Regions from separate parts of the Homo sapiens genome. Here all the other regions are linked to region 3. The links come from fine-mapping of genetic effects on gene expression. A gene starts in region 3. Each other region holds a variant in brackets. All regions are shown on one strand. Distances are between the middles of the regions. Region 1 overlaps PLCB1 (phospholipase C beta 1). Region 2 overlaps PLCB1 (phospholipase C beta 1). Region 3 holds the start of PLCB1 (phospholipase C beta 1). Region 4 overlaps PLCB1 (phospholipase C beta 1).

Region 1 (8,111 bases), 310 kb before region 3:
TTCTTTAGAAATTATCATCTCATGTATTCTGCTGTAGCAGTACAAATGGACTAAGATAACCAAGAAGTAAAAATTAAGTATTTAAGACATATTTTTTCTAGAAAATTCTCAAAATAAAAATAAGGAAAAAACTACAGAATCATTGAGCCATGTCTTGAAAACACATGCACACATTAACAAATGGAATATATTCAATTATTTTATTTCTATATTCTAGATTCAATCATATTCAGTGTGTCTTCTGCGTATGTGTGTGTGTTTTAAATCTGAAGTCAGAACTAGAACAAAGTATGTTTCTTGAAAATGGATTCCTTGTTTTCTATATTTATTTATCTTGATACAATGCTTCTTTGAATTAACTATGTAACAGTTATAAGGTGCTTTATTGCTGCTTAGCTAATCCTCCTGGATTGATATTTAAAAGGATTTAAAATTTTTTTCAGATATAAAGAGTTTCATGATCATCCTTCCCTAAGACAATCTCAAGAGAATGCTGCCCTCTCCCCCTCCTCTATCTGCCCATAGGAATTTTTCTGTTAAAAGAGTGATCAATATCTGAGAGATCGTCTGTTATGGTCGGTCACTGCTTATGTTTCACACCTGCCTGGTTAATTGGTAGGCAAACAGTGTTTCATTCAGTCCCTAGCGTTCATGCAAAACCGTCTGTATTTAGATAAACTTTCAGTCACTTAGCAAACCTCCAAAATAAAGATTATTTATTATTTCTTATTGATATAAATTGGAATTACAACGATCAGATTTCTTACTTTGTGATCAGATTATCTTTGCAACTAGTAAATTGCAAGGTGTCAAAGTTCTTGACTGCAAAATGCACTCAAAGCAATTTTCTCTTGAAGCAAATCACTCCACCTTTAGAAAATTCATACCAAATTCAGAAAATCTTTGGCTGACAGTCTGGTATCAAGCTCTTCTGTAAGTATCCTATTATGGTCGGTAAGTGTAAAAATTGATATTTTCACATAGATTTCAACTATAATTCTGTAGAGCTAACCATAGATGCCTAATGCCAATGAATAAACAATGTTACTACTTTACTTGGAATATTACTGGTTAGAAACAACGATTTAATTCTAATTGTAGATATCAATAATAATTGGAACATTGTCAAGAAATGTGGCCACGTATTTGTGGGTATATACTGGATTTCTTGTAATGCTACCTTTTTCAAAAGATCACTCCGTTGAATGACGAGAGTAAAGTTTCTTGAATTTTTTCCACCTCAAGTCCCTCTGCTGTAAAATGGTGAGGCTGGGTTAATTTCTCTTTTTAATTTAATTTCTTAAATTGACACATAATAATTGTATATATTCATGGAGTACATAGTGATGTTTCGATCCATATAACATATAGTGATCAGATCACGGTAATTATCATATATATATATATATAAAATCAAAAACATTTATCATTTCTTTGTGTGGGGAACATTAAATATCCTCCTTCTAGCTATCTGATACTATATACCATATGATTGTTAACTTTAGTCTTCCTGCAAAGCTATACAATACTAGAATTTATTCCTCCTATCTAGCTATAATTTTGTATCCTTTAACAAGTCTCTCCCTAACCCTCCCTTCCCCCAACCCTTCCAAAGTGGTTTAATTGCTTTTCTAGCCATAATATACAAACTTTCTGGATATATGGAAACATGGGTAAGCCCTGGGAAGACTGAATTGTCTGGATCCATAGACAAGAACTGGACTGGTTAAAAGGTGTTTGATGGAATAATATGTAACAATCAATTCCTGGAGAAAGTCCAGGTGCCACAGGGAATCACTGGGGACCCATTTGACCTGCTTCCCTTCTTTCTTCAATGTTCTAGCTGTAACAGTCAAGTCATTTTTACAGACAATAAAAACATGACTAAAGTCCAAATAAAATAAATACATCCTTATTTCCCATCACCCATATCAATACTAGCTATGGGAGTCACAAATGTTTGAACCTTTTTTGTCATCAGAATACTTAATAATACTGAAATGATTTTCCAGCCTTAGATATACATTTTTCAGTCATTGATTGCTGGCTTTCAAGGTAAAAGTTGTTTCTGTCCAAACACCACTAGTTTAAATCTTCCCATTTCATGGCGACCTTGAGGTGATCAGCATACATTTCAAATGCCCTTATGAAAGAAGCTCTGAGTATGCATAACTATATTATTCAGGAATCTTCTCATTCCTTTTGTTTAACATTCTTTGAAGCCAACATAATCTTTTGTATAACTGCCTTATGTACCCTTAACAAGATAATATACATGCATCCACATATAAGCCTACAAATCCTAAGATATGATTAATTAAAATAAAATAGAAAATAGAGGTCAGAATAGCTTCAAAAGAGGGCAAGGGATGACTTAGTCAAAGAAAGCTTTTAAAATTTTAAGAACTTTGGTGCACGGTACAAGGCATTTTCTATGCCTATAAAAAGGTCAACGACCTAGAAGAAAAAATAAATGAAAAAAAAATCTAACCAGTGAAAAGAAGGGAAAAAAGCTTAAATCAAGCATAAGGCAGAATGTAGAAAATATAGTAATGAAGATTTAAATTTTATTTACAGACCTGCTGTCCATATGCCACCCAAATATTCCAGTATAATCTATCTAAATATCTAATTACTATGAATCTAAATTTCTAAATACGACACAACTTCAAAGAGCGATAAATGCTTGTTTAGAACATGGTCTAAATAGTACGAGCCATGTAATTCCTCAAGAAAATTTGACACAAATTCCAGCTCCCTTGGATAAGTGTTTGAGTATTTCTGTACCTAAGTTTTTCTTATGAAATAGTAACAGTTTATGTTACCTGTTTTATGGGTCTTAGGAAAAAATACATCCTGCCATCTTTTGAAGGCTTTAAAAAAAGAGGTTTCTTTTTTAGGTATTGTTTGAAATGAGCCAATAAAGAGTATATTCCTGAGTCTAATAAATGCTTCGGTGTGCTAATGCCCTGCTAGATGCCTGGAGGCTTGGCACCTTTACGACAAGTATTTTAGCCACTGACCCTGAATGCTGTGGATGGAAACGCTACAGTAAGTTGTTGGCAATTTGCACTCCATCGACTGTTAAATCATTTGCTCACTCTTGTCAAAATATTTACTGAATCTCCACTCTGTAAAGCCCTAGGGATACACAGGTAGGATAAAGAACTTCACAATGTAGAAAGCTCTAAAGAGCTGCTTAAAATAATTGGAGAGAGTGGTCTTCTAAGATGACCTTACGAGAGCACGTCGCTGACTCTCCTTCCCTCTGAATTCCCTGCCGACAAAGTCAACAACCAAAGAGCAAAGAGGCAGTGACTGAAGGTCATGTGCAAGGCCAGTCATGCTCCATCTCATCACAAAAAAAGCAGAGTGGGTGCCTTGCATCGTCTTGGGGCCAGGTGAAATAACCAGTGGCCACTTTCTGAGGAGATGCTCTTCTTGTGGCCTGGGGTGAGGACAAAGGATTTTGTGGCCCCTTGGGTCAGGAAATGGGGCAAAGACCTGAACCCAATGGTTGCTGTCCATAAGCCATAAAGAGGCATGTCATTCAGCAAAGCTAGGGGGTACTTGGCCAGGAACTGCAGTCGTCTGAATCCTGACGCACCCTAGACATTGTGGCTAAGAGACAACTGTGGCTTGCATTCACAGATACCTGAGAACTTCACTTTCTTATTGGGTTGTAAGAGCCATGTAAGAGTATGTTAGAGATGGTATATGTTTCCCTTTTTCTGATATATCTTGTAACTGTTTTCTCCCAGCCTGTAACTTGTCTTTACCTTTGTCTGCTTTGTCTTTTGCCCATTAGAAGTTTAACAGTGTTAAGCAGATAACCTACCAGTGTTTTACTTTGCTTCTGGGTTTTGCGCTATGTCTAAAAATGTTTTCTCCCACTCTACAGTTATAAAAAGTATATTATGTATATTCTAGCAATTTTGGTTTTCCCTCAATATTTAGGTATGTATATAATATGGAAATTATTTGCTTATATGGTGTGAAGTAGGTTGCCAAAATTACTTTTATATACGGATATTCATTGTTCCAATATCTTTCCTGGAAACACCATTTCACTATTAATTGGAAATGTCATTTATATCAGATGCTTAACTAGCAAAAATAAACATTTATGAAATTATCTACAAATATATAAGATAGAACACACAAAATAAAAATGAAATTCATATATGAAGATATAAATTTTAAAAGTTCTACAAATAATAAAATAAACTATAAGTATATAAAATTCATAAAATAGACTTTTTTTATGTTTCAGGGAGTGATTACCTTATAATGGCATAGTCTGTTTGGACATATATTCTCAGTATCATTTATTGGCAATTTATTTCCCTCTACTTGTCAATCTTTAGAGGCTGCAGTGATATGTATGTGGCCTACTAAGTTTTCAAGGATTTCCCCTCATATCTAATTAGCTACATAATTGGTAATTTTACCTAATACTTCCTTGCTCACTGTCTTGAAGGTTCCCAGAGCCCCAGTAAAAGTGGTATTTTTATATTGAATAGGGAATTTTTCTTTGCCACTCTGGTGCACATTTTTGATAGCCATCTCAGCCCAAAAATGTTCATATAAGTACAAATAATGGTAGAAATAAACACCATACCAGAGAGAACAAATAGATGGTAAAAACAGTAAGATGTCAGTCTACTGTACTGGATGACTAGTTATTTGAGAAATAGTGATTCCACTACTCAGTACTGTAATGGATTTGTGTTCATATATTTGTGTATAGTTTAATAAAACCATTTCTAAAACAA[T/C]AGTGCTACAATGAAATAGCATTTCATGCATCCATTCTAAATGAGTTATGCTTGTTTGAACACTTTCTAATCTCTTCTACTCCATTGATACAGTTGTCTATTCCTGTACTATTAGGTAATATTTTAGTAAATAGTAGCTTTAGAATATTCTCCTTCTAGCCCAAATTCCCTCTAATCTTGAGATGACTCTAAGTTGGTTTCCTGATTTCCACTCTGAGGAAAATATCTGAGGTTGTCTCAGTAATGGAACGTTTTTATCCATTTTCCTCTTTGAAAATGTAACTCCAGCCTGCATGGTTCTGATAGGCTTATTTTACTCCTGGCTACAGGGGAAGGCGTGCATTCCAGGCCTGGCTGAACAGATCATTAAAATCCATGGTTACGGACCAGGCTCGGTGGCTCATGCCTGTAATCCCGGCACTTTAGGAGGCCAAGGTGGGTGGATCACTTGAGGTTAGGAGTTTGAGACCAGCCTGGCCAATATGGTGAAAGCTCATCTCTACTAAAAATACAAAAATTAGCTGGGTGTGGTGGCACACGCCTGTGATCTCAGCTACTTGGGAGGCTGAAGCAGGAGAATCACTTGAAACCGGGAGGTGGAGGTTGCAGTGAGCAAAGATCGTACCCCTGCACTCCAGCCTGGGCAACAGAGTGAGACTCTGTTTCAGAAAATAATAAATAAATAAATAAATAAAATTCCATGGCTACGGTGGCTAGGTCAAGTGTTGGCACATATTCTATGTTGGTCTAATGAAAGCTACATCAGGGTTTTCACTGGAACAGGTGGAATCAGGGATCCTTCCTGGATTTGTAGTTAAAAGTATGTAAGCCTAGAGCAAAGGGTGGCAATACATGGAGAAAAAATAAATAGACACCAAAACCTATAAAATGAGGAGAGACAGAGAAGAGAGAAAAAAAAGAGGAAAAGAGAAAAAAGAGAGTTTGGTGTTAACAGATTTTTTAAATTAACAATCTCTTCCCACATAGTCACAACATAAAAGGATAAACCTGAAGTGTTTGTTGTCTTGTTTTTTTTTTCTTGAACACAACTTAAGAAGTCCAGATTTTCTGAAGCAGAAATAGTCATTGCTCAAAATAATTAATTTATGTAAACATATGTTCAATATTCTTTTTTTTTTTTTTTTTGACAGGGTCTCACTCTGTCACCCAGACTGGAGTTCGGTGGCGCGATCTCAGTGCAACCTCTGCCTTCCAGGTTAAAGTGATTCTTGATTCTTGTGCCTCAGCCTCTCAAGTAGCAGGGCTAATTAACCATGCCTGGCTAACTTTTTTGTGTTTTTAGTAGAGACAGGTTTCGTCATGGCCAGGCTGGTCTCGAACTCCTGGCCTCAACTGATCCACCTGCCTCAGCCTCCCAAAGTGCTGGGATTACAGGCGTGAGCCACTGTGCCTGGTCATATTCAATATCCTTAATGATGGAACTTCCAAGAGAAGTAGAGAACACACTGTTATTTTCCTTGTGTGGAGAGGAATTTTAGTGTATCTCATCTAGGAATCACCTGGCATCATTACAATCTATCCTTAAAGATGCCTGAAATCTTAGGAGAGTTCATCTTTTCATCTGGGGTCAGTCAAAACCACAATAGTGATATTTCAAATGGTGCTTAGTCACAACTTCCTTGAAAAAATGATCTCTGTCTTTGCAGTATATCTGGTAACGGAAATGGGATATTAACGTCTAAACCCACTCTCCTGTCAATGTCTCATAAGACTGTAACTAAGGGATCAGCCAGATTGGGTTAAAGTCTGGAGGCTTGATTGGGGAATAATCCACTTCCAAGCTCATTCAGGTTGACGGTAGAATTCAATTTCTTGAGCTCTGTGACTGAGGGCTCTGGCTTTTTGTTGGGGCCTTGGATACCAGAGGCTGCTTGCAGTTCCGGAGGCTGTCATATTTCCTTGATATGTAGGCTTCTCCAAAAGAGCCACTAACTTCAGCAAGTCTTCAAGAACAGTCTATTGCCTCCAGAAGGGCCCAGTTCCTTTTTTAAGGGCTTTCACCTAATTAAGTCAGGCTCACCCAGGATAATCTCCCTTTTGATTTACTCAAAATCAACTGACATGACACTTTAATTATAGCTGCAAAATCCCTTCACCTTTGTCATATTCTACCGGGTAGAAGCAAACCTTAGGTTTTGCCCACACTTAATGGGCAGGGCATGGACACCAACGGATGGGATTCTGAAGGCCATCTCAGAATTAGGTCTACCACATCTACACTCCATAGTCTTGTACAGTAAGGATAAATTGTCTTAATGCTTATAGTGTATCTACACAAGAACTAGGCAGTGTTGTGAAGAGTGACACATTCATGCCACTGGGGAGCTTGTAAGTATCACACCAAATTCCTTCTCCAATGGATTAACCTTGTAGCTCTATTCATTTCAATAGATATTCTACTGCAGGCATGTTATACACCATGGACTACAGCTATACAGCATGGTCCCAGCACAATTCCTACAAACTTTTGTTAGAATGTTTGTATGTGTGTGATTGTCTACGTGCATGAGAGGCTGTGTGGTATAGTGAAAAGTGTGTACACTTTGGAGTCCTGAGAGTGTCAGCTTGCATGTGCCCTCCATTAACCAGGCCCTGCCTTAGAAAATTTTAGCTTTATTATCCACGATGTGGGGAAGCCTATTCCTCAACTCCTCCAGTATTAGGGTAAGACAGTGTCATGGATGGAGGTACTGGTTAAGCTCATGAGCTCTAGAGGAGACCTCTATCTAGCTCTTATTAGCTGTGTGACCATAAGCAAATTGCATAACCTCTCTAGACTTCAGTGTTAACTCCTATTTCATAACCTTAGTAATTGTTTCTAGTTCACGGTGTTGAAATACCAGTAGAATGTTTGGTATACAGATATGAATTGCTCAATAAACATTAGTTCTCATATTTCTAATATGTGTAAAATGCCTGGGACAGTAATTGATAGAATAAATACTAATTGGACATCTAATCTGTTTTAGGCACTCCCTTAGGAGTAGCAATAAAGCAGTGAATAAGACAGAAGAAATTTCCACCCTCTTGACCTTACATGCTTACATATCTTTCATATATTATTATTATTTTATGATTTTGTCCTCTGCTATATGATAACACCATTAAGGACAGAGACCAATCTGACTTATGTGAAACCTTAGGATCTGGTATGTTGGACACATATAGGCATTCAATAAAACTTTATAGGAATGAAAAATAAAAAATAGAACAGAGACCGTATTTTCAAAAATGTTTAAATTCCAGAAGGAAGTGCAGACACAAAACTAACTAGAATGAATACATGAATTAACCAACTGTCAACTATCTTCCTGC
Region 2 (8,111 bases), 340 kb before region 3:
ACCTGGAAAACCATGTTCTAATGCTGCACCTTTAAATCTCTGAAGTAATCTGAACTATTACCTGGCGACCCTAGAGATGGAGAAGTCTCCTGGCCTAGCCAATTTCTCCTTTATTTCTCAGCTACTGTCCCACTACTGAGAAAACCTTTAGAAACCGATACCTAGATAGTTCACCATCACTATTACATGTAGTGCTCAGCTCAAGGAAATCCCATACCTAGAAATCCCAGAACTAAGACATGACTGCATGGAACGTGCTTTGTGCATATAGATTTGTGTTATGCTACAGGTTGGGTTCTGATCTTCATATCCTTTTCATTTCGAAATCGTCAACTACCTAAAAGATATTTTTCTCATAGTAAAGGGCAGAAATGCAAGAGAAGGAGTCATACCACACAAGCACATGTAAAGTCATTACATCCACTAACATTTGACTAGCTAAAGCAAGTCACAGGGCCAAGTCAATGCAGTAGATTGTCAACTCCACTTACACTCATGGCAAAGATGGAAAGCAAAAGAATTGTGAATAAATAACACCATCTATCACCAATGCTAGGGACATAAAAGTGAGTAATATAGATGGCTAAGTTGTAAAGGAGCCTGCGGTCTATTAAGAATTGTGACTCTGTAATGTTTCCTGTTAGTGGAAGCAAAGATATAGCATACAACCATTTTCCTCACAAAACTTTCCATTGTCAGTTAATAGACATAGATCTTGCAGTATTAAAGCTCATATAGAATGAAACTTATTTCATGTAAGCTAATGTTTTATAATTTCCTGTCAGGTTTAAAAATATTGTATCTTCTGAAATGTATTTCAGCATTATCTTATTGCTGAGAATGCACTGCATTTATCTTTAGGTTACTCATTCTATAATAAAAATAAAATATTTACATAAAAATGTACACTTTGATGGCTTGCACCTATTCTATAATGCTATAATTTGTTACCAATTAGCATTCTACAGCAGGTGACATAAAACAAATAAACAAGCAAAGTTGATAATAAAAAATAAGACATTAAACAAATATGTAAATTATAGTGCATATAATTCTACATTATTTTGAATATGTGCACTTCTTATTAATATTATTACTCCATAATAGAGAATACTCATGCCAGTTTGCCACAATGAAGAATTAATGACAACGAAAATTTCACATAGTAATTATCTAAAGAATTAGGCTTAACAGCCAGACTGTAAAACTGACTTATAAGCCATGTAAACCAAGCTTTTTACATGTATAATGAATGAAGTTTACATCAAAGTAATTTTGAGCATTTTTAATCTATGAAAAGAGCCTGCTTAACATAGCAGTTTTTAGATCATTAGTAGCAGAAAATTTTTTTCAGAATTGATATTTCATAAAACCTTTAACTTTACATTTTGAAGTTAGCAAAAATTACAAAAAAGCACCACAATCTATAATTTTGAGGAAAAAATAATGAAAATTTTAACTATTTAAAATATGCTTGTTTTCAAAGCTACCTTCCTTAATTAGAATAAGAAGAATTTCTACAGTTTCCCCAACATACATGAAATTCTATGCCCAAAATTAAAAATGCAAAACATAAAATAGTGCTGCATGTTTAAGGGTAAGCTCTCATTATTATTTGTTTCCTGTCATCTGTGTGTTATTTATATATGTATATTTATATATTTTGCTTTTGTTGAAGCTGTTTTCTCTCAATGGAATGTCCACATCTTAAATCTACTCAAGTTCTGTTGGCTCTGTGAAGCCTAAATTCAAAATGACACCTCCCTTCACTAATTTTTTTTTTCTGCTCAGTCTGTCTGTGTTCCATTATTAAACTCCCATGTTATGCTTTTTCAATATTTCATAACTTAATAACACACGAGTTGTGTATACTATTTGCAAGTTAAATACATGCATCTCCAACAAGTGCCATGAAACTAACCTTTTGCGGTTGTCACCATAATCCTTAGCATGATGCTAGGCACAAAATAGTTTCTCAACAAATACTTGATCTTTCACTCCTTTACTTGAGTTTCAGCCAGTGATAAAGAATGCTACCACTGCAAATTAACAAAACTGTGAGCACAGCTCTCCCTATGAATAATCTATTCCTGTTTTGAATTATTGATTAAATTTCCTTCAGATAAATTTTACTCAATAGATTTAAAGCCAGAAACAAGCAGGGAGGACTTTCTGGGAGAAAGTCAACCAAAACCCATGACAAAGAGGAGAGATAGATGGAACAGTCTATGTAAAGCACTAAGATGTGGTTTGGATGTGTGTCCCATCCAAACGTTAAGCCGAAATGTTATTCCCAGTATTGGAGATGGGGCCTAGTGGGAGCTGCTTGGATTATGGGTGCAAATCTTTCATGACTGTCTTGGCGCCATCGCCCTGGTGATGAGTGAGTTCTTGCACAATTAGTTCATGCGAGAGCTGGTTCTTTAAATGAGCCTGGCACATCCTCCCCACTCCTTTGCTTCCTCTCTTGCTATGTGACACACCTGCTCCCTATTCGCCTTCTGCCATGAGTGAAAGCTTCCTGAGGCTTCACCAGATGCTGGTGCCAAGCTTGTACAGCCTGCAGAACCACGAACTAAATAAACCTCTTTTCTTTCTAAATTACTAAATTTCTAAATTTCAGATATTCTTTTACAACAAAGCAAAAATGGGCTAATACACACTAGTTACATGGAAGTTGATACATTTTTGGTGTTCTCTCCTTATTATTTTATACTATTTCAGATGCCTCAGGAAGGATATAATCAATGTAACCACCATTGGATGGGTTCTTATGTCTGCCCGTCTTCCTTTGGTCCTAATACCTGGCAGACATCCAAACGATTAGATAGGAAAGGAGACTTTTAATACCTTACAATTAAGTTGCTGCGGCAACTCTACAGCTTTGCCTCCCAGTTAGCAACATCTCTCAAAATTGAACATGCGTTGGAATTGCTTGGGGATCTTTTCAAGCTGTACTTCAGTAGATCTGGAGGGGCCTGCGATTCTGTATGGCTCATAAGCTTGCAGGTGCTGCTGGTCTAGAGACTACTCATTAGATTCATGCCCAGAGATTCTGATTTAGTTGGTCTGGGGTGGATCTTAAATGTCTGTACTCTTTGGAACCCGCTGAGTAATCCTCAAGTACAGCCTGATTTCAGAAAAACTACAATGGACCATCAGTTTCCTGAAAAAAATCCTTTTCCTACAGCTGGTGTTTGAATAATCCATCATGGTAAGGAAATAGTGTGACTGCAGAATCTTTGATCAATGGCCTATATGATGGGGTGGGAGCCTCCTTTCCATCATTTTAAGCTTCTGGTGATATGTAAACATATAGCTTCCTCATCATTTTGAACATCACACACACAAAAAAGCCATCCTAATACAAGTGAAGATAAGATATTCCAAGGCCCGTCTATTCAGAGTGCTCCAAGGATGCTGTATCCACCTTCTCTAAGATCTTTTAAGAAAAGGAAAATTTCAATCCCTATCCCAGACTCACTGAGTCAAAATTTATATTTTTAATAAGATTTTAAGGTGATTTGTGTGCTCATTAAAATTGGAGAAGGCTCTAATGAAGAAATTCTCTTGCATGTTTTCAAAAGCTTTATATTAAAATATTTGATAAAAGGATAGTTTTAATATAGTATCTGAAGCACTTAAGGAAATTAACTTTAGCATCCAGCCAGAATGAATAATATGAGTAGAATATTAGATTCTTTTTGTTTTGTTTTAGCGAGGTAAAATTTAGGTTACACCAAGGAGCAAAGTACATATTCTTCAAGGTGATCAACAGCTTTGCTGTGTGAGATCATGCTTCATCAAGTCAGCTGTGCCAAATCAGGCTGACACACTTGACACACTTGACACACTTGAACAAGAAGGAAGTGACTGATCTGTGGTTTCTTCAGGATTGAGGTACAGAATCCA[T/C]TGCAACACTTTTACTTCTCCTCTTTATTCCTTCCTACCATCATTTTGTGTCTTTGTGAACTCCTGTAAGCTGCTCTACTAGGTCTCCCAGGAAACATTCTTGCAAAAGTGACCACCAGTAGCCGTGGGGGCCAAGACACAGTGTTTTGGTTGGTGCCGGAAATGACTGTAATAGCCTTAAACTCCACATTTAAGAGCACAGAGCAATGACATCTGCATCCCTGGAGTCTGTTAGAAATGCAGAATCTCAGGTCCCACACCAGACCTGCGTCAGAATTGGCATTTTAACAAGATAGGAAGCAGTGGTGTATGACAGTGTGTTAGATACTGTCTTTGTAGAGTTGTAGAGAAGCAGCCATGTGCATGATTGGAAGTTATGGAAATAGTAATACAAAATAGCATATACTCTTTACCAGTTATCCTAGTATTAATCACAGAAGTGTGCTATCACTTTCTACCTTGCATTGATTATCCTATTGTTTTTCTTTACTTCATACAAACATTGTTCCTATACAAGATATTGGCTATATCTAAGATGTTATATATCTACCAAATAGTCCATGTGAAGTGAAATCCTTTACATACACCAATTATCTGAAAAAAAGTGTGCAAGTGTCTGAAAGATGTTGTTGGTTTTAAAAAGACAAGGTGTAGAAAAAAGTTACATTTGTGTTTCAACTTCATGTTACCAGCTGTGTGACTCCGAACACAGGCTGAACTCCTCTGTGCCTCAGTTACCTTGTTTGTAAAATTAGAATAGTTATACCTCACTTTCTGGTTTGTTGCAAGGACATCTCTGTCTTTTTTTCCCACTTATTTTTTTGAGACAGGGTCTTGCTGTGTTGCCCAGGTTGGTCTCCAACCCACAGGCTCAAGCAATCCTGCCACCTCAACCTCCTGAGTAGCTGGGATTACAGGCATGCACCACTGCTCTCGGCTGCCAGGGTATCTCCTGATCTTCATTATGTCTTCAGTAGCACAGAGTAAGCCTCCACCACCCAAAATGGCTTTTGAACAAATGAATAAAGTGTATTTTAAAAAACCTTACTGGCATATCTTGGGTACCACATAACATAAATGTCTCCCTTATCTTAATGATTGAACATTTTTCATGTAAGATCTTTGATTGAAAATATACAATCCCATTATAAATTCATGCACTCAATGATTTCTCCTTGCCAAATATACTAAAGAGTGTGTGTGTGTGTCTGTGTGTGTGTGTGTGTGTGTGTCTGTGTGTGTGATCTTGTTTTTTGACTAGTGTATATTGTTACTAGATATCTGGAAGCTTTGGTCTGAATTACTCAATGTTTAATCATACCTGGCGAACTTCAGGTGAAAGCAGCAGAATATTATGGAATGAGGAGGGTGAAGAATTTTATCACTGAAGTGAAGATAATAAAATCATCAATTGTGGTCACACTTAGATCTCTTAAAATTCTTAATGGGCAATGTACTTCCCCATTCTCTGAACCCAGAACCAACCTCCCATCCTTTGACAATCATCCAAGGTCCAGAAATGTCACATCTTAGTCCCCAGCCTAAATGCAGAGCCCATAGACCACCCAGCATTACACTTCTGGTGCTAGAGCATGAATGCCAAGCCTGAAATCGAGTGGCTTTATGGCTCAATAGTCAGTCCCTTATGAGGGCCTACAGCAGCATCCAGCATGTTGCATGTTCTGCTCCTTCTGCCTCTCCTCCACCATAATCCCTGCCACTCTACCCCTCATTCATGTTTGCTCATCTTTAAACTTGCCAAGCACACTCCGATCCAAGGACTTTGCCCCTGCTGTTCCCTACACCTATAATCATTTCCCCAACAAATATCCACATGATTTATGATTTTCTCCCTCAGAGCATTTCAGCCTCTGCTCAAATGTCATACTCTGACAGCCCATCTTCCAGTCCATGCCACTCCCGCATCACCCTCTAGCATGTCATTTTGCTTTATCTTTCTTCCTAGCATGAAACTCTACCTGCCATTGGGTTGTATTTTTATTTGCTTATTATGTATAAAAAGAGGAATCTCATTTTATTCATGGCTATATACCCAGCACTAAGATCATTACAAGGCACATAGCAGGTGATCAGTATTTGTTAAATAAATAAAATCATCTTCATGTCCTGCCCCTCTTTGCCACTGGGGCATGGGAACGAACTGGATGCCCTAATGATATTCCTGCCTAATTTACAACACATGCTCAAGTGAGAGACAGGCAAGAGTCAAGACTATTGCAGACAATTAATTAACTGTCTTAATTCAATAAGATTTCTTAGAGGCATCAGTGGTGTTCTGGAGCATGTGATCACTTCTTGTTTTTAAAGATAATGCACCATATTCCCATTTGAGAAAAAATTCACCATATTATATAAATGGGGTTAAGGTTCTGCATCAGGTTTTTGTACTGCTGCTGGTTTTAAGACTCAGGCTGCTGAGTGCCCAGCCTTTGCAAGAATCCACTTCAGGAATAATGACATCATGCCTTAACTCTTCTGAAACACATTTTCACTCACTGAGCAGTTCAGACAAAACCAATTACATGATGTCATTTTCTATTTTGGAGAAGAGGCCAGGGTGCTTGGATGGATATTTACTTCACATTATTGCACTAGAGCTGTGGCAGGCACCTCGGTCTTGATACTAATGGCACCTGTTGAAATGATAACTAACAAGGCTGGATTGTCAAAATCAATTTTCTTGCTATGTGTGATGCTTTGCTACTCAGTTTAATGTTCAAAGGAGATTCAGGAGATATAAAGAGTCAGTTATTTGTTTTGTAAATTGAGAACAGATCAATAAAATGTGCCTTCTAGGAATGCCAAAGACATCTTTGAACTAATTTGAAGAGAACTTATTAAAGAAATTACTTAACATGTGGATATATTAATTATTAGCCTAAGACTAATGTATAATTAATGTGTGCGTGCATGTGTAATTTTTTTTTCCTTTGGAGATAACTAACTCCAATTCATTAGTCAGATTAATTTCAACACTGTAAATATAAAAAAGCAAATATTCAGCAGTGTATGTCAAGATCACTGCATGTTCACCAAAATCCATTTCATCTTCTTGAGCATATGTGGTTGGATTACATGCCCCAGTGTCCCTTGGGATGAGGTTTGGTGATATGACTGACTTCTAGCTCACAGAGTTAGAGCTAGAGTCACATTCACAGAAACCTTCCACTGGTGACCGTCCATACTCTTTCTCCTTCTGGCTTGATGCAGCCTAGCAGGGTAAGTTGGATGTCTCTGTTTGTAGATGATGGGTTTACAAGATGGAAGAATGCCGGCCATGTGAATCATGGCTTGAAGGGAAACAGTCCACCAGAAAGAGCATTTTGTAAACAACAATGTAAACTTCAATAGTGTTAAGCTACTGAGATGTGGGGGTTTATCTTTCATAGCAACTAGCCCCAGGAAGAACTGTGGTGACCTTCCTGGTCCCTATCTTGCATCATATTTTCATAATCGAGCACTCTAATTGGCTACTCTTCAATTCTTCACCATACTTGGGTGATCAATGCAACATCTCAATGACGAAGATAACTTTTTTTTTTTTGAGACAAAGTTTTGCAGTGTTGCCCAGGTTGGCCTTGAACTCCTAGGCTCAAGTAATCCTCCCACCTCAGCCTCCCCAGTAGCTGGACTACAGGCATGCACCATCATACCTGGCTTAAAGAGAACACGGCTATTCCAGAGAGAGTTGTTCTATAAAGTAATGGTATATATGTATATCTGGAGTCAGAGCTAAGCTCTATAATATCAGTTTAACTAGTTAAGGTGGCTTTATTATATTGGGGCTTGACTTATCCATCATCTGGCTTCTACTTCACAGTAAAATTAAGTGGTCACCAGAACCCCAGTGATGGGGCTGGTATTGGTAAAAACATAAAATTAATTAGAAAATGTATGAAAGCAAATAAATAAAATGAAAAGAACATAACAATAAAAGAAAAGGGCCATTCTTTTGAGTTAATGCTTCAATTTGGCCCCCAAAAAACTCCACAAAGATTTGCAAACAATAATATCTTTACAATCAAGTATCTATGCTGAATTTGCCTTGAAACAAAAATTCTGCTACTTCACCAAAAATAAGAGCTAAATTTCCTAATGGACACATTGCTAGTACCTTAGGGGAGAAATCAAAAATAATTATTTTTTCACTTATTACGAATATGGAATAGTTTAAAAAT
Region 3 (8,111 bases):
ATCTTCCATTCCATATGGTGGTCAAGACAACAAGACCAGTGATTATACTGCTTTAATCACTTCAGGAACAAGAGATAATTTCTTCACATCCTAAACAGCCCCAAATTCATCATTTTTGAATGTCCTGTAACATTACCACGCTTTTACACAAGAAGCAGCAAAAATACAGAGAAGCTAAGTGATTTGCCTAAAGTCATGCAGCTTACTGGTGAAAGAACTAGGAGGTAAACTCAGGCCTTTGATTCAAGATCTGGTTCTTTTTTGTCTTCAACACACTGTCTCACTAAGGTACAATATAAATAGCCAGATAACTTGAACTGGCTTGATTCTGGAAGGGCAAATACGAGCTGAGAAGAGTAGAAAAGGGATGCCTGGGGAAGAGAAAGGCAACCTTAAGAAAGGCTGGGTCCCTTGTAGTCCACTGATCAGCATGAAGACCCAGAGAACCAAAGAGCCTGCAAGATAGCTCATTATATTCCAGATAACTTGACTCCTGAGTGCAGTCTAGGTTTTTTTTTTTTTTTTAAAAAAGACCTGAAATTCTTCTGGTCTTCTCCTTAGTGACTATGTCCTTTCTTTCAGGAGGGCTTCCTTGGAAACTCACTGCTGCAATGCTCAGAAGGAGCTCTTTTCAACTTCTTCTTTGGTTGGTATTTCACTAACGTCCTCTCTATTACCCTCAATGCATCACCCAATCTCTCTCTCATTGGTGTTTTTGATGATTTTTGTCTCCTCCACCTAGCATGTAAGGTCCGTAACAGCAGGGATTTTGTCTACTTTTTTCACCACCCCAGAATCCAGTCTAGGATTGGCAGTAATAGGTGAGCAAGAAATATGTGTTACAGAAATGCACATAATGAAAGTCATCTACCTGGATATACCAAAATGTGTTTTCATAGAATACTTTCATTCTCAATGTGATGTTGGCTATTCTCTCCCAAACAAGAAATTATAGAGAATTATTTAAAATACAGTTTAGAATCATCACTGTATACAAATCCAGAGCTTACGCTGAAACTCCCTTTTCTAAATTCTGCAAAGTCTCTTTCTCTTTCCTCTGCCCTTCACTCTCTTTCTCAGTAAATCCATCATCACATCACCTCTCTATTCAAGGATCTCAAAATGGGCAAGACCGTCTTGTTTATTGCTGAACTGCATTTTCTTTGTCTTTTTTTTCCCTGACACAAAGCATTTAATCTGCGTCTGAATTTATTGTTTAGATTCTATTCCATTTACAGAAACATTCAGTACAATTAGACTGGAACAGAAAGAAGAAAAGTGTGAAGCCCATGGTAAAAAGATGTATGTTTACATCCTTGCCTACAGCATTTAATAATTGGCACGAGCTTTCAAGGAAGCTGTGGTTCATACTCCAAGTTCCGTTTGCGCTTCCAGCTGGACAAAATATAGACACAGACGCACTCAGCTAAGTAATTGGATTCACTACCTGGAATATTTAAATTGTTTTCAGACACTGGAAAATGGCTTAAGAAGATTAAAGAAAAATACCCTAGAGGATAACAGGCTATAATTTACTAGGTGGAAAATCTTTTCGGCAAGAAGAACGCCTCATTCTCCTATAATTCCTTCTGATTAAGAGATGTATTAGTCATTTGGACTTAAATTTGCTTAGAGCCTGGCAACTCGGGTTTATTTCAGTAGGTTTTTCTTATCGAACCTTTAGAATGACACCCAGGACATAAAACTGATACCATAATGTTCTCCATCCGAAGATTCGCATGTTTTCAGCTGGATAACTAATTTACGTGTTTTGAAGACAACTGGGGTAGAGGGGAAGGGGAAGTCATTTGAAGTCCTGGGGTCTGGGCCGCTCGTAAAGCATTAGAGACCCCGGCGCTGGGCTAGGCTCTGCCCTACCTGGCAAACGGTGCAGGTAAATCGTGGGGCAAACTCTCAACCTGTCTATTTCAGGCAGAAGACTCCAATCAGCTCAGTTCTCAAAAGTCAGCCCTCCCCACTTGCCTGCAGGCCCATGAGCCCTCCAGGACCCCTCAAGGGCCCCCATTCTGTTCACGCCCTCCCCAGATGTGTCCCCGCAGCCCTTTTCAGGGACCCTCACTCCGGAGCCAGGCGCTGAAGTTTGGCATCAACGACCACCTGTTGGCTGGACCGTTGTGTCCTCCGCCGCCTTGGCTCCCACAAAAGCGCCAAGAGGGTTCGCAATCACTAAAGTGTTTTGAACTTCAGGTCCTTCCTTCTTGAAATCGGGCAAAAGAGGTAATAGGGGGTGCGTCCGCAGGCGGAGAGGGACGCGATTTGTTCACACCAGGCGCTTTCCAGTTGGTCCCAACTTCACACTCCCTACTTTCCGAACTCTCAGGACCTGTCACCAGGCAAAGCTTGCCCCTCCCTCTCCACTGGCCCAAAAGATGTAAGACCCTCAGGGGGCGCCTGCCAGACCCAGAAAGGATGGCAACTACTGAAGCCCGATGAAACAGGAGCGCGCGCAAAGCTTCTGCCCTTGGACATCCGCTTTGGCAGATGCCAACCTGTGCGCCCGAGGCTGCCCCTGCCCGCTCCCAGTGCGCCCATTGCATAACGCGCCCCTTGCCCCACCCCCACGACGCCCGCCCTGCCCGGTGCCCGAGCCAGCGCCCCGACTCGGGCCGCCCCAATACTTACATCATCCCACTTGACGAATTTGGTGCCCTTCTTGAGGCTGTCGGACACGCACACGGGCTTGAGTTGCAAGGCGTGCACTCCGGGTTGAGCCCCGGCCATCTGGGCTCATCTGGGCTCCGGGCGGCCCGGGCGAGCGCGGCAGGGACTGGGGACCGTGCGCGGGGCGCGGGGCGCGGGGCGCGGGCTCCTTTCTCTGCTCCGGAGGCGCTCGACTCTGCTCCCCGCCGGCCTCCCCGGCCTCCCGGCCTCCGCACCTCCCTCCGGCGCCGCTCAGCAGGCAGAGCGCGCGGGGGCGCAGCGCCCGGCCATGCCCCGGGCGGGACGCGAGGTCTGGAGCCCGCGGTGGATGAGGAGCCTCGGAAGGCGAAGAGAAGCCGAGCCGGTCAGCCGAGGCTGCCAGTCGCGGCGGATTCTGCTCCTCCGCCGCCGCCGCCTCAAAGCGCACCATTCAGCACATCCTCTATACACAGAGGGAGAGAGCGAGTGACACACGCCCGGCGCCCCCCCTAACCGCTCTTTTCCCTCCTCCCTCCTCCTCCCCCCCGCCCCCCTTCCCCGCCACCCTCGCTCGCTGGGTCCTTCCTTCCCCCCGCGGCTCCCAGCCCAACTTTGCACGCTGGGTCAGGCGCCAGGAAGCGGGGACGCAGCGGCACCTCCTGGCTCCCGAGCCCCATTGCAGCCAACGCCTGCCTCCCGCATTCGCTCTGAGCATGCCCCGTGCCCTGGTTGCAGAGGTGCTAGGGGTCCCCAGGAGCCTTACGCTCTTTGGGGTTTTCTTGGGAATTTGGGCTCGAGCTCCGGAGCGTCTTTGGATCCCAACTGGCTGGGAAAAGGGGCCCATCGGGAGGAACCAAAGAGGCAACCCCTGGCTTTTGGCTCTAGCTGGAGCTCTCCAGCGCCAGCCACAAACCAGCTTTTTGAAGAGAATTATCATTTATCAGCAGAGAAGAGCGCAGTTGAGAGGCTCTTTGAGGAAACCTGGCCGCGCCTGAGAGTTTGCAGCGCGCTGATCTTGAAACCCGGGCAAACGGTTACGTTGTGCTTTCGAGACAGAAAGCCCATCCTAAAGAAAGCAAAGGTTTTATTTTCCGAGGAAGAAAGAGGGTGCCCTCTCCCGCTCCTCTCCTTGAGTGTGTAGGATGTGTGGCGGGTGGGGGAGAGTCTTATTAATAGAAACTTGCTCATTTAGGAACATAGGTCCAGGAATGTTTGTCTTCACTCCTTCCACAAACATTTCTCAATTCAAGAAAGAAAGGGAGGGAGGGAGGGAAGAAGGGAAAGAGGAGGACCAGAATGGATAAAATTTTAAAGACTGGTAATACCAAATGCTTGAAAGGATGTGGAGCAACTGGAACTCTTTTTTTTTTTTTATTAAGGAGAGAGAGGAGAGGGAGAGAGAGAGTGAGTGAGTGTGAGAGAGAGAAAGAGAGAGAGAGAGAGACACACGCGGGAGGTGGGGGGGCGGAGAGAGAAATAGCTTGGAACTCTTGTTCATTGCTGGAGGGAATATAAAATAGTAAAACCACTTTGGAGAATAGTTTCTTATAAAGTAAGATATTTACTTATCATACAACCTAGAAATTCCACTCCTAAGTATTTGTCCAAAAGAAATGAAAACGTTCAAGTCTGCAGGGACTTGTAAAGTGATGTGAAGAACTTTCTTCTTAGTAGCCTGCAAATGTCAATCAACAGGTGAATGGATAAACAAACTGTGGTATGCCCAAATATTGGAATACTATTCCACAATAAAAATGAGTGGGCATGCAAGATCAGGGATGAATCGCGACTTTAAGCTTTGTAAAAGAAGCCGGACACGATAGACTGTATGCTGCCTGATTCCATGTGTAGGAATTGCAGAATAGGCAAGATATTCTATGTTGACAGAAAGCTTGCCTGTGGCCAGGGATAGGTAGAGATGGACAGGGAAGGGCTACGAGCACCTGATGAGCATGTCGGAAATGTTCTATATCGTGTGTGTGTTTATCAAAACTTGTAAGTTCTGTAAGTACGCCTAAATTGAGTGCAGTTTGTTTTAAATAAATTATATCTCAAAAAGGTTGATTTTTAAAAAGAAGAAAGAATACGAAGAGAGAAAAATGGAGAGAAACACTACATTCTCTTAATCCTTCATTCTCCCTGTTCTCTGCCCTCAGGACTCCAAGGCCCAATGCTTATGAACTCAGTCAAAAGATTACCAAAATCCAATACAGAAATTTGCTATTAAATATTTCAATGCATTTAAAATATACTTATTGGTAGCCAGCTGTATACTAGCCACTATTGTAATCACCATGGATAACCTGGTGAACAAGACCCATGACTCTTGCTGTCATTTGAGGGTCTTGCCTTGTGCTTGGAAGCCAATTGCTACAAAGAATTTCATGAAAAACTGACTGGTTTCATTTTGATCACATGTCCCTAAACTAAAACCTGAATGGTCCACAGTCCCTCTAGCCAGCAGCCTTGGCTTGCTAATTACCTCACAGAAGGTATCAGTCACCGTCTCAAGTCGATTTTCTCTACTTCAGAGTACTGCAATGAAACTCTGCTTCCAGGGCTCCAGAACTTCTCAATTGTCCTTACAACTGATCATACCAAATTGTTTTCCTTTCCTTTCCTTTCCTTTCCTTTCCTCCTTTCCTTTCCTTTCTTTTCCTTTTCTCCTTCTATCTCTTTGTTATTTACTGGAAAGATTATTGGCCAAATAGTTTTTACCTGTCACAGTGGCTTAGGAAGGCAAGACAGGGCTGCGCTCACTAGAAGAGGAGATTGGAGAGTTACAATGAGCTCTAAGCAAAATAAGAAGTAGATTGAGCCTCCTGTGGTAGTTTATTGCATCATAGCTCTCTGCTCCCTGCTCCTTTCTGCGTCCACACATTTTTCTTTGTGACCTTACAGTTTTTACTAGACACCCTGTTTATTTATCCATCCCATTGATGTTGGACAATGTGACTTGCTTTGGCCAATGGCATGTTTGAAGATGTGATATTAGCAAAGGCTCAAAATATGCTTTGAGGTTGGGCTTTCCCTCTTGGGTTTCTTATCATTTCCATGAGATAAACATGCCTCAGGGAGCCTCTGATCTAAGGAGACAATCAGGACAGACCTAAGCCCCATTTACAGCTTGGAAGCAAGTCCAGTAGAAACCATCCTAGATCTCCCAGACTCAGCCAACCTGCAGACTCATGAACATGACAATAAACGTTCATTGTTGAATGGCACTGAGTTGGGAGTCATTTGGTAACCACCATTATTGGCAATGGATAGTTGAGTATTTCATCTAGCATCCCTGATTCCTCCCAGCTGTTGCTGTGAACGTGGACGTAAAAAGGAGAGAACGCTGTAGAAATCTGAACAGGATTTGTCTTCAAGACAAACATGGGCTGCAAGAGTTTCTTCAGCCAGCAAAATGACGCAGTTTGTTAAAGGAGAACTACAGGATAAATACCTTCAACATGTAGCATGATGCTTGAAGCAGCATGGTTTAACTCCCTCATTTTCCACACCTTTTGTTCAGTATACAAGATAGAAATGTTTCTAAAGTGTGGAGTTTTTTTGTTTTTTTCCCATTCTTTTTTTTAAATTATTATTATTATACTTTAAGTTTTAGGGTACGTGTGCACAACGTTCAGGTTAGTTACATATGTATACACGTGCCATGTTGTTGTGCTGCACCCATTAACTCATCATTTAGCATTAGGTATATCTCCTAATGCTATCCCTCCCCCGTCCCCCCACCCCACAACAGTTCCCGGTGTGTGATGTTCCCCTTCCTGTGTCCAAGTGTGGAGATTTTTGCTATGCAAAGGGATCTGTAAGAAATCCAAAATTGTGTGAGCCAGGCCTGTGATCCGTCAAGTTCGGTGCTGTGTACTGTTTTTTGAAACAATAGGAAGGTCTGTTTTTTGTGAGAGCACAGAATTGCCCTCTGGGAATGTCAGCCTCAGGGAGCTGGCAAAGCTAACCTTTATTGAGCACTCACTGTGGGTCAGAGCACTAAGCTAAGCACTTCCCAGACACTAAAAAACATAACCCTTCCTATTCAACACCACTCTCCACCCTCTTTTTCTTGTAAGCAAACCCTGACTTAATTTGGGTGGTCGTCATGCTTAGGAAACATGGCCCCTCTCTCTTTCCAAGGAACAAACTATGATTGGCCTAAACTAATGTCAATAATTCCATTCCCCTTTGTCTGTAACTGGTTTAAGAGCTATATGAGGGGCTCAGTTCTGACTAATGTCTTCAGGGAAATTCTCTTTCTCTGTCTCATATTGTTATGTAAAGAGGACACTGACAAGAAAGATGCAAAGAAACCTGGTCCTTCATGAGCTTTTTAAACCCTTTAAATTTTCTTTAGACTTTTTAATGAGTGAGATAATAAATCTCTTTATTATTTAAGCTTTATTGTTACTCTCAGCTGATCTGGTAGATAATATTATTGTATGCTATTTTACTGATTTATATACTAAAGTTTGGAGGATGGATTAACCTCCTCCAGTTACAAAATTCGGAATTGAGATGGAGACCTAGGAAGTCTGACTTTAGAACCTAGACTCTTAACTACCATGGTAGATACTTCTACAACTTATAAGGCAGATATGAGTAGTTTCTCTCTCCTTTTAACCACAGTGTAATATAAATAGTCCTAATTTCCCTAGAAACTAGATTGTGGTATGTACTCCAGTCTCTTGTCAGCTCATAACTCACTTGAGGCCTGCCACAGTGGGAAGGACAGTGTTTTGATTTGAATAGACATATCTTTTAACAGCCAGTTCTACCAATTACTACGTACGTAACCGTGGGAAAGTCTCTTATCTCTTCTGAAATACAAGGTCCTAATATGTAAATGGAGAAATAATAATAATGTCAAAGCTTTTTATGTCACATACTCTTCTCAGGGTTTTACATTTTTAATGCATTCACTGTCATATTAACCCCTAGGAGCCGGGTTACTATTATCTCCACTTTATAGCTGGGTAATCTGAGTCAGAGAAGTGTTAAGTAGTTGTTCAACATTTTCCAGCTAGTAAGTGAGTGAACCAGAATTTAAACTAGGCAGTTTGACCCCAGAGCCTACATATTTAACCACCACAGTAAGCTGTCTTAAAGAGGTATTGCAAAGATTAAATGAAATCATATATCTAAGTCCCTGTCACAGCGGTAATCAATAGTAGTTAACACACATATGGTTATTCTGAAATTCTACTATATTCCCTTTCTATGCCCTAAATAACTCTTTTAGTCTTAAAAGACAGCATTCTAATTCTGTGGTCTGTGATTTAGTAAACTTCTTTTTGGCTGCATTGATTCTATAAACTTTAATCATATTCATTTTTGTCTCTAACCTTCTAGAACTGAAAAGCTCTTTTCCATCATGAATAAATGAGTTCTAATTGCATCTAAGAATCAGGGCTCCTTTAACTCACCTTTTTTGATATAAGAGAGATATGGAGAAAAACTACCCAGAA
Region 4 (8,111 bases), 110 kb before region 3:
ATCAGTCTTATCCACAGAAGTGCTGGGCTTGCTTCTAGAGTTTTCCCTACCGAACAGAACTCATCTGTTATTACTGTGCTCCAGCAAACACCAAAACTTTATCTTAGGTCGTGATATTTTTTAACTGTTTCACCACCTGATAATATGACCTAGCCACCTGGAAGCTGAGTGAAATCCTATCACAAACCCACAGATAGCATGCCCGTAACGATGCAAATTTAGATTTGAGGCTACTGGCCACTGACTTCCTGTTTTTCTCCAAAATTCCCCACTTCTCATCTCATTAACTTCCAATTAACATAGCTTCATATCTTATCCAATTCACTCTGCACACCCCATTTGTAGCCTTATGGCCATTATTCCCATAGCACAATTGAACCAGAGATGACATTTCCAAACCAGAAGCATTATGTCTCTCCTGACATTCAGGTTCCTCCTCCTTCTCCTTTCTTTATGTCCCAAAGCCACACAACCTTGTCCCTATCCCTGGAGCTAAAAGCTGCCTTTATAACCAGTCAATAAATCCTGCTTTTCCTTCTTTCAAGGTAACTTCTTGCATCCTCAGCAATTGCCATTCCTCTCTTTTCTCTCTAAGTCGACTAATGTATCCCTAGGCCTCTATTGTTACCATTACCTTTCAGCTCACCTCTGGCGCTCAGCCTCTCCACCCTTTCAACTTGCCATATATCAAACACCTTTCCCTTGCAAACTTCCCCTCTCAATTAGAGGATCAGGTGCCTGGTTTTGCAGTGGCCTTTAAGTACTCCTTAGTAAGTCTGACCACATTGACCCCTCACTTCTCCTGTTCCTTGTGGTTCAAATACTAATCATTGCCTTCTTAGAGGAGCTGCTTGTGCCATGATATAAAAGAACCTGCTCCCAGGCTGAGGTAAACAAGAATCTGAAAGCATTATCCTCATCATAGCTGAGTGGACCAGGGATAGACATCTGGCCCGTGGAATCTGGCACTGAGGCCTAGTGATGCTAGTAGCTGGAATCTTTGCTGCAGCTGATGTGACCACACGCTGGGTAGAGCAAATAAGCCATTCTGCAGAGAGAAAAAAAATAAAAACAACAACAACAGAAACATGTAGCAGGAAGGTCAAGGGAGAAAGAAGAGACACTAAGTTCTCTGGAGAGACACAGGGAGTCCTTCTAGCTCCTGACTCCTAATATCTGGCTGTTTATCATGAGACCCCAATGAGTTTCTTGCCAATGCCCTTTATCCTCCAAAATTATACTTCCCAAAGCCAGTTGAACAGAGCTCTGTTCTTGTACATTAACCCAGTGAAAGCATGTGTGTACCATGCCTGTCTTCATCTGTGCCTTTACACAGACTACTCTCCCTCTTTAAATGTGGAACCCTCCTCCTTCAATCATCTAAATCTCAGCCACCTTTTGGGACTTAGCTCCAACTCTGCTTCTTCCAAGAGGACTTCTTTGCTCCAGTGTTCACTGATTTCTACTGAGGTGGGAGGAAGGGTGGTAGAAAGAAGTAGGGAAAGCTAGAGAACCTCTGTGTATACTAGTTGATGTGTTATTCTCTTTCTCAGCCTCCATTTCCTGATACGGAAATCAAACAAAACAAGACTTACAACATGGGTTGTAAGTCTTGTGAGCATAGATTAGATAACATACATAAAAATGCCTAGCCCAGCTCCTTGCCTCTACTCGGTGCCTAATTAATATTTCATTGCACTTCTTGTATTTTTTTTACTCCTACAGAACTTTGCTTCAACATCAAGCTGACATTAAGTGACTACAAAGACATAATAGTTTTCCAAAAATTCACTCGATGTCAGCCCAGTTGTCCTCAAACACGAGAGCGTTCAAGTGCTGTGCTCCTCCATGTGAAGAGAGAAAGAGGACCCAAAATGAGGTTAACCAAATGCTTAGCCAGGATCATCAGACAATTGTGACCCAACATGACATTAGGATAGAGAAGGACTCATAGAGAATGAACCCAAACCCCATTAAAATTATCTTTCCTGGAAAGTAGAGGCTTAATTTTTCAAGTAGATTACTTGCATTCTTTTTATCAACTCACTATGCATATTTTTCTTACATTTGGGAATACATCAAGGGAAGAAATAAAGATGATTCTGTTGATAAATTTCTAAACCAGGAGAAATTCAATTACATTAGGAAATACCCAAAACATGAAAATGTTGGCAGATATGTGATCACAGGATCACATAACCTGGAAAAATAACCTAAAACAGACAAGTAAAGAATCTCGTGTTCACCATAGTTTCCCAAAACCCATAATTTGGCAATTATACTTCTGTTTGTATTCAACTCATTGATTTAAATGACCAATCAGAACTGGTTTTGCTTTGCTGGTAAAGAATAGGAAAAGTATGAAGCAAAATTTCATGGGGCTAGTTTAATATACATTATTTTCTTCTTTTATAAATTTGGAAAAAATTTGATGTAGACACTAGAAATCTATAAAGGAAATAGGATATTTGATTTCTAGTTCCTAAATTGTTATGCTATCTGGCAAGCTATAAAATCTCTGTGCCTTACCTTCTTAACCTTCTTAATTTCTAAAATTAAAAGGCTGCTATACTATCATCTTGAAGGATAAGTTGGCAATGCCACTTAAAATGTAAAATGCATTTACGCTTCCCTATGTATCCCAAAGAAGGCCAATACTTATGCACAAGGAGGTGTGTGCATTCCAGCATCATTGGTAACAGAAAAAAAATTAAAACAAGCCAAATATCCATTTAAGGAGAAAGTGAAAAAAATGATGGCGCATCCATGTGATGAAATATTGTGCATCAAATAAAAATAGTGAAGTAGCTCTAGGCATACTGATATGCAAAAATCTCTAAGATACATCACTAAGTATAAAAAGCAAAATGCAAAAAAATGCTATGTATTGAACATACATTAAATACTGCATATTAAGCAAATGTGTGTGTGTGTGCGTGTGTGTGTGTGTGTGTGTGTGTGTCAATATCATGAAAATTTTGGAAGGTTTCACAGCAAACTGATAACGGTTAACCTGTGTTGTTGTTTGGGAGACTGAGAGGTGTTGAGGAAGTTACTGACCTCATTCACACAGCTTTTGTTTTTTTTCATGAAAAAAAATCATAGATTATGGTTGTAATTACAATTCGTTTTAAAAATCAGAGGCATAGTCTAAGTAATCACTAAGTCTTTTCCCAGTTCTATGTTTAATAGAAAACTATGGATAATTTGTTTTCAGAAATCTGAATGTCTCTTGGTCTGCTTTGTAAACCATAACTGATTTATAAGCAAATCATTGGGAATTACCTATCGTCTTAAAAGGAAGTAGCATAAATGTGAAATAGTTTTATAGATTTGTACCCAAAACCTTAGAGCTGTGGGCAAGATATTTAACACAGCCTCCAAATCAACATCAACAAAAACCCATTTTACAGTGCATTAGTGGCCACAGTGCTAAGGCTCTTTGTGAACTGAATTGTTGCCAATTCTATCACAAAATTCTAAGGCATAGAATAAAATGCTATTCTTTGTGTTTAATAAAAAGGATCTCCTATCAAGCATCGTATCTTTCCTAAGTGTTAACCAATAAACTCAGTACCCTATTCAATACTCTTTTTCTCAAGATTTATCTCACAGCTACATGAACTGACTTTACTTTTTTTTTTTTTTAAGTACCAGAAAGAGGAAACACAAAGAGAACACTGAAGCACTATTTGGTAAAACTACATGCAATTTACTAGAGACAAAACTTAACACTTTTCAAACTGCATTTGGTACTCTCTCTAATTTATCCACACCCACCACTGGCTTATTTGCAAACATCACTAAGCTGGTGCCTATTCCTTACACCGGATGGTGACTTTACAAAAGCATATTGTTAGCACTGCCTTGCCTAAGATGGCTTAAATCATCATTTCTGTCCTTACTATATAGGAAGGTTAATGACTGAAAGTTCATGAGAAGGCTTGTTGATGACTTTGGGTCTCTTCTTATCCATCACATTCCAACTAGATTTTAAGTTGCATTCAATACTCATCGGACCACATATTTCTGTTCTGGAAGGCGTTAGTTCCCTGTCCACCTCAGTCTCATCCTAGCTCTGAGAAATAGGTGCTCCTTCTCTTTTCCAGGGCTCATCCCGGTCCTGGTATACTGCTCCAATCTCCTCCTGCTTTCACTTAGGGTTCTTTCTGTTTACTCAACTATCCCCTCTTTTTCCTGTATTTCAGTGTTCCCCTCTCTCCTGCTTCCTTTTGCTCTACCTAAAGACATGCTCTAGTCTCCCTAAATATAAATAAAAGTCTTTCGACCAATGATGCTACACTCTTAAGTCCATAGTCTTCCATTCCTCCCCAGGCCTTAGCTTCTGCTTCTCGGGGTCTGATGTCTTCCCCCCA[G/CG]CCACCCATTTACTCAATGGACTCCACCATCCCTAAGATTACCCATTTCTATATACTTTTAGGCCCAGTGGCTTGTCTCAGTTATCATTGCCTCAGGTCTGTCTATAACATTTGAAACCACAGGCCAAACACTTCCCGCAATTTTGCCCCCTTTCCGTTTTCCTTGAGCCTGTCTTATTTCATCTTTTTTTTAAAACCAATTAACTGACCTCTTTTTCCCCTTTCATCCTGCATATGTTAATATGAGTCCTTGTACATATTGTCTTGTTCCTCACTTTGTATATATAAAGGTGAGTCCTTATACTTCTGTCTAGCTCTTCTGAGAGACCTCATCTAGTATATGACATCTGGCATGATAGAGAGATGGAAACAGCATTGTTCATAATGTAGTTTATGTGAATGATAAGCCCTGGAGCTTAACTTCAGATAAGAGAATGAGAAGAGCATCCCCTGGGTTTGGAACTGTGCAGAGGCTCTGCACTAACCTGGAATTCATTGCCTTCATAAGGTTTAGCTGTCACTTTTAGGTAACTGACTCCTATATGAGTATCACCTCACTGACATGTCTGATTCAGGAGCCAATTACATATTCCCAAATGCCTGCTGGATACTTCCACGCAGGTAAATTGTCAGCTCCTCAAATTATCTTACCTGAAATCACAGTCATACCTTGGCTATTCCCACCAACACCCTCCAAGCCACTTCTCCTTCCAGGAAGTTTAAGAGTACAAATCATTACTCGTTCAATTTATTCACCTCTCTAACTCCTACAGGGACACCATGAGTGCATAACTCACATGGAAAAGATTTCGTTGAGTTTCAGACCATTCATTTTCGTCTTTGAGAATAATTTTAAATTCTTAGAAAAGAGTCAAATATTAAATTCAAATCTGTCTGTCTTTCAAAGGCCATCTTTAACTTGTATATCTTAAATCTTTCCCCAAGACATTACACAATCTTTTTATAAGAAGTTGGCAGGATTAATTTTTTAAAAGTTGACACTTCATTGTTTTTGCAAAGAAAAAGACAATTTTTGCAGAGGTATGACTGTTAAAACTGGGATCCCATTTACGTAATTAGTTAGCTAATTAATCCCATGGTTGGTGCCTGATTATATTGCAGATTCTATTTGTGTCTACATCAGGGTAAATGAAAAACTAGATTAGCCAATTAAGTAGTAATGGGGAAACCAGTAAATGGAGATTTCTCCTTTAAACTCTGAATTAAGATATAGTTATAATTATTTCATTTCTGCTTTCTGATTTTAGAAAACAAAATGTCCATTGTAAAATACAATGAAATATGATTTTTATCATGATGTTATAAAAGTAATATATGCTTGCTGTAGAAAAACACTTGCAAATGTGAGGCAAGTACAAGTAAGTAAATTAAAATCATTTATAATCACACAAGACAGAGAAAACCACTGTTACTTTCGTGCATGTCCATATGACTTCTGGGCATTTTTTCTTTTTAAAAAATAAGATCTTATTGTTCATTTTCCTTTGTAATCTGCATATTTCCCTTGACACTAGAGCATGAACATATTTATATATTATTTAATTTGGTAACAGCTTTCTTAATGTCTGCCTACGATTCCACTATTGACATATATTATGATTATTTAATTTATTCCTTTGGCTGAATACTTACAGTTTATGTTTCAATTTGTTATACTATTGATCAGTACTACAAGCAATTTCCTTGCAATGTCTGCCTACTTTCATTATAATTTCCTTAGAATAATACATTAAAAATAAAATTTTTGAATTAAAGGGCTTGAGGACTTTCATGCTTGTGATAAATATGCCAAAGGCTACCAGAAAAGCTGAACCAATGTAAATTATCTGCAAAATACCTTGGAGTGGTATTTAACCTCCCCACTGTCAACCACTGGAACTTTTAGTTTTGAAAATAAGGGAAATTTTATGGGTGAAAATAATTATTGTTATAGTATGTATTTCTTTGATTATTGCTGAAATTAATAACTTTCTCATATCTATTTGTGTTTGCATTTCTTTCTTTCTTTGGGGGACTTTACTTTCCCATTCATATCGTTTACCCATATTTCTATTATTCTTTAATTTATAAAGGCTAGTACAGAATAAGGATTTAAAGTTTCTAAAATGTCATCTATTTTGCAAAAATATTCCAGTTTGTTTGGTTCGGACTTGGCATTTGTGAATTGTTTTGTGTAGAAGTATTTTTAAATAATGGTGCTATCAAGTTTGTCTTTACTCTCCTTTTGTAGTTTCTGCCTCTCATTGAATAATCCTGTGTTACCCAATTGATTTAGTACCTTTATTTTATATTAATTAATTAATTAATATTTTGAGATGGGGTCTTGTTCTGTTACCCAAGCTGGAGTGCAGTTGTGAGATTATAGTTTACTGCAACCTCAAACTCCTGGGCTCAAGCGATCCTCCCGCCTTAGCCTCTCGAGCAGCTAGAACTGCAGGCAGGCACCACTACCCATAGCTAATTTTTTGAATTTTTTGTAAAGACAGGGGTCTCACTATGTTATCTGGGCTGATTTCAAACTCCCGGCCTCAAGCCATCCTCTTGCCTCAGCCTCCTAAATTACTGGGATTACAAGTGTGAGTCACTGTGCCTGTGTTATTTTTTATAGTAATTAGTGTATTTATGAACTTTCTATTCTGTTTTACTGATGAATTGATTTCCATATCAATAGAGTGCTATATTAGTTGTCTTACACTATATTTGAAATTTTGGTTGGCATAATTCCCTCAGCATTTTTTAGTAGTTTCTTCAAAAAATTTCAAATTAACTTGAGTCATTTTCCAAGTTTGAAAAACACCTTCCTAACTTTAACTGAATTTGTAGTAATTTAATTTGGAAAGAACATGTATCTTTAAAATATTATTCCTTCCAGAAATATAGTGCTTCTACTTATTTAAAACTACTTTGGATTGCCTTGAGAGTTTCAATTTAATACAAGAATCCTATACACGCCTTAAGATTTTTTTTAAATATAGGTCCTTTATATTTGAGCTTGAGGTTTTGAATGTCAGCTTCACTAACTTTTGATTACTGGACATAAAAAACTTTCTCATTTTATAAAAGTATTTTAGAAATAATTTCCGTGTTGAACTCTTCCTTGGGATTAACATTTTAGTTGATCTTGTTTTTTCAGGGTAGACAGTCATCTCATACGCAAGTTATAAAATGACAATTCTAATATTTATAGTGCTTAATTCATTTTATTAAGCAGTGTTCAATAATAGGGACGTGCACGAATAACTTTGGCTCTCTCCCAATTTAGAGACATGCTCAAGAATGTTACTATCATGTATGATGTTGTTGGTTTGTGATAGCATCTTACTATTTCTAATTTGTAAGAGATTTTTAAAATTATTAGAATTTTGTCACATCTTTTTGTTGCCTTATCAGTATGATCATGTGGCTTTCCTCTTTTTATCTGTAGAAGTAATAATTATATGGATATATTTTCCAATAATAAAACATTCTTACATTTCAGAATCAATTTCTATTATGTGGTATTTTTATTATACTGCTAGCTATTATCTAAGGACAACTTCAATCTTAATTTACCAGTAGAATAATTCTGCAACATGCTTTAGAAATGGAATATTTTATGTGAATTACTAGTAAATAATGCACATTATATTTTTATTCTCTCTAAGCTCCACATATATCTCTAAATGGCTGGAAAAGGCTCTGAATAATATCTCAGACACATACTTTGAAAGATAG

What was found.
Region 1: its variant is fine-mapped to the expression of PLCB1 in whole blood (TOPMed, PIP above 0.99).
Region 2: its variant is fine-mapped to the expression of PLCB1 in blood mononuclear cells (TOPMed, PIP 0.99). The same link has a PIP of 0.9 or more in whole blood.
Region 4: its variant is fine-mapped to the expression of PLCB1 in whole blood (INTERVAL, PIP above 0.99).

Annotation. Positions count from the first base shown.
Region 1 is chr20:8,434,138-8,442,248 of GRCh38, reverse strand. The region is part of intron 3 of PLCB1 (phospholipase C beta 1); the gene reads right to left. It overlaps LOC124900459 (a long non-coding RNA gene), which reads right to left. Exons shown (of 2, transcript XR_007067518.1): 2 at 1-8,111. Among named protein-coding and RNA genes, the nearest start is that of PLCB1-IT1, 190 kb to the right of the region's middle. The variant T/C (reference allele first, on the strand shown) is at 4,776.
Region 2 is chr20:8,472,044-8,480,154 of GRCh38, reverse strand. All of the region lies in intron 3 of PLCB1 (phospholipase C beta 1), which reads right to left. LOC124900459 (a long non-coding RNA gene) reads right to left here. Exons shown (of 2, transcript XR_007067518.1): 2 at 1-8,111. Among named protein-coding and RNA genes, the nearest start is that of PLCB1-IT1, 230 kb to the right of the region's middle. The variant T/C (reference allele first, on the strand shown) is at 3,913.
Region 3 is chr20:8,127,283-8,135,393 of GRCh38, reverse strand. It overlaps PLCB1 (phospholipase C beta 1), which reads right to left and starts at 3,128. Exons shown (of 32, transcript NM_015192.4): 1 at 2,644-3,128. The coding sequence starts at 2,742. RefSeq lists a silencer at 2,903-3,042.
Region 4 is chr20:8,235,131-8,243,241 of GRCh38, reverse strand. The region is part of intron 2 of PLCB1 (phospholipase C beta 1); the gene reads right to left. Among named protein-coding and RNA genes, the nearest start is that of PLCB1-IT1, 9.5 kb to the left of the region's middle. The variant G/CG (reference allele first, on the strand shown) is at 4,377.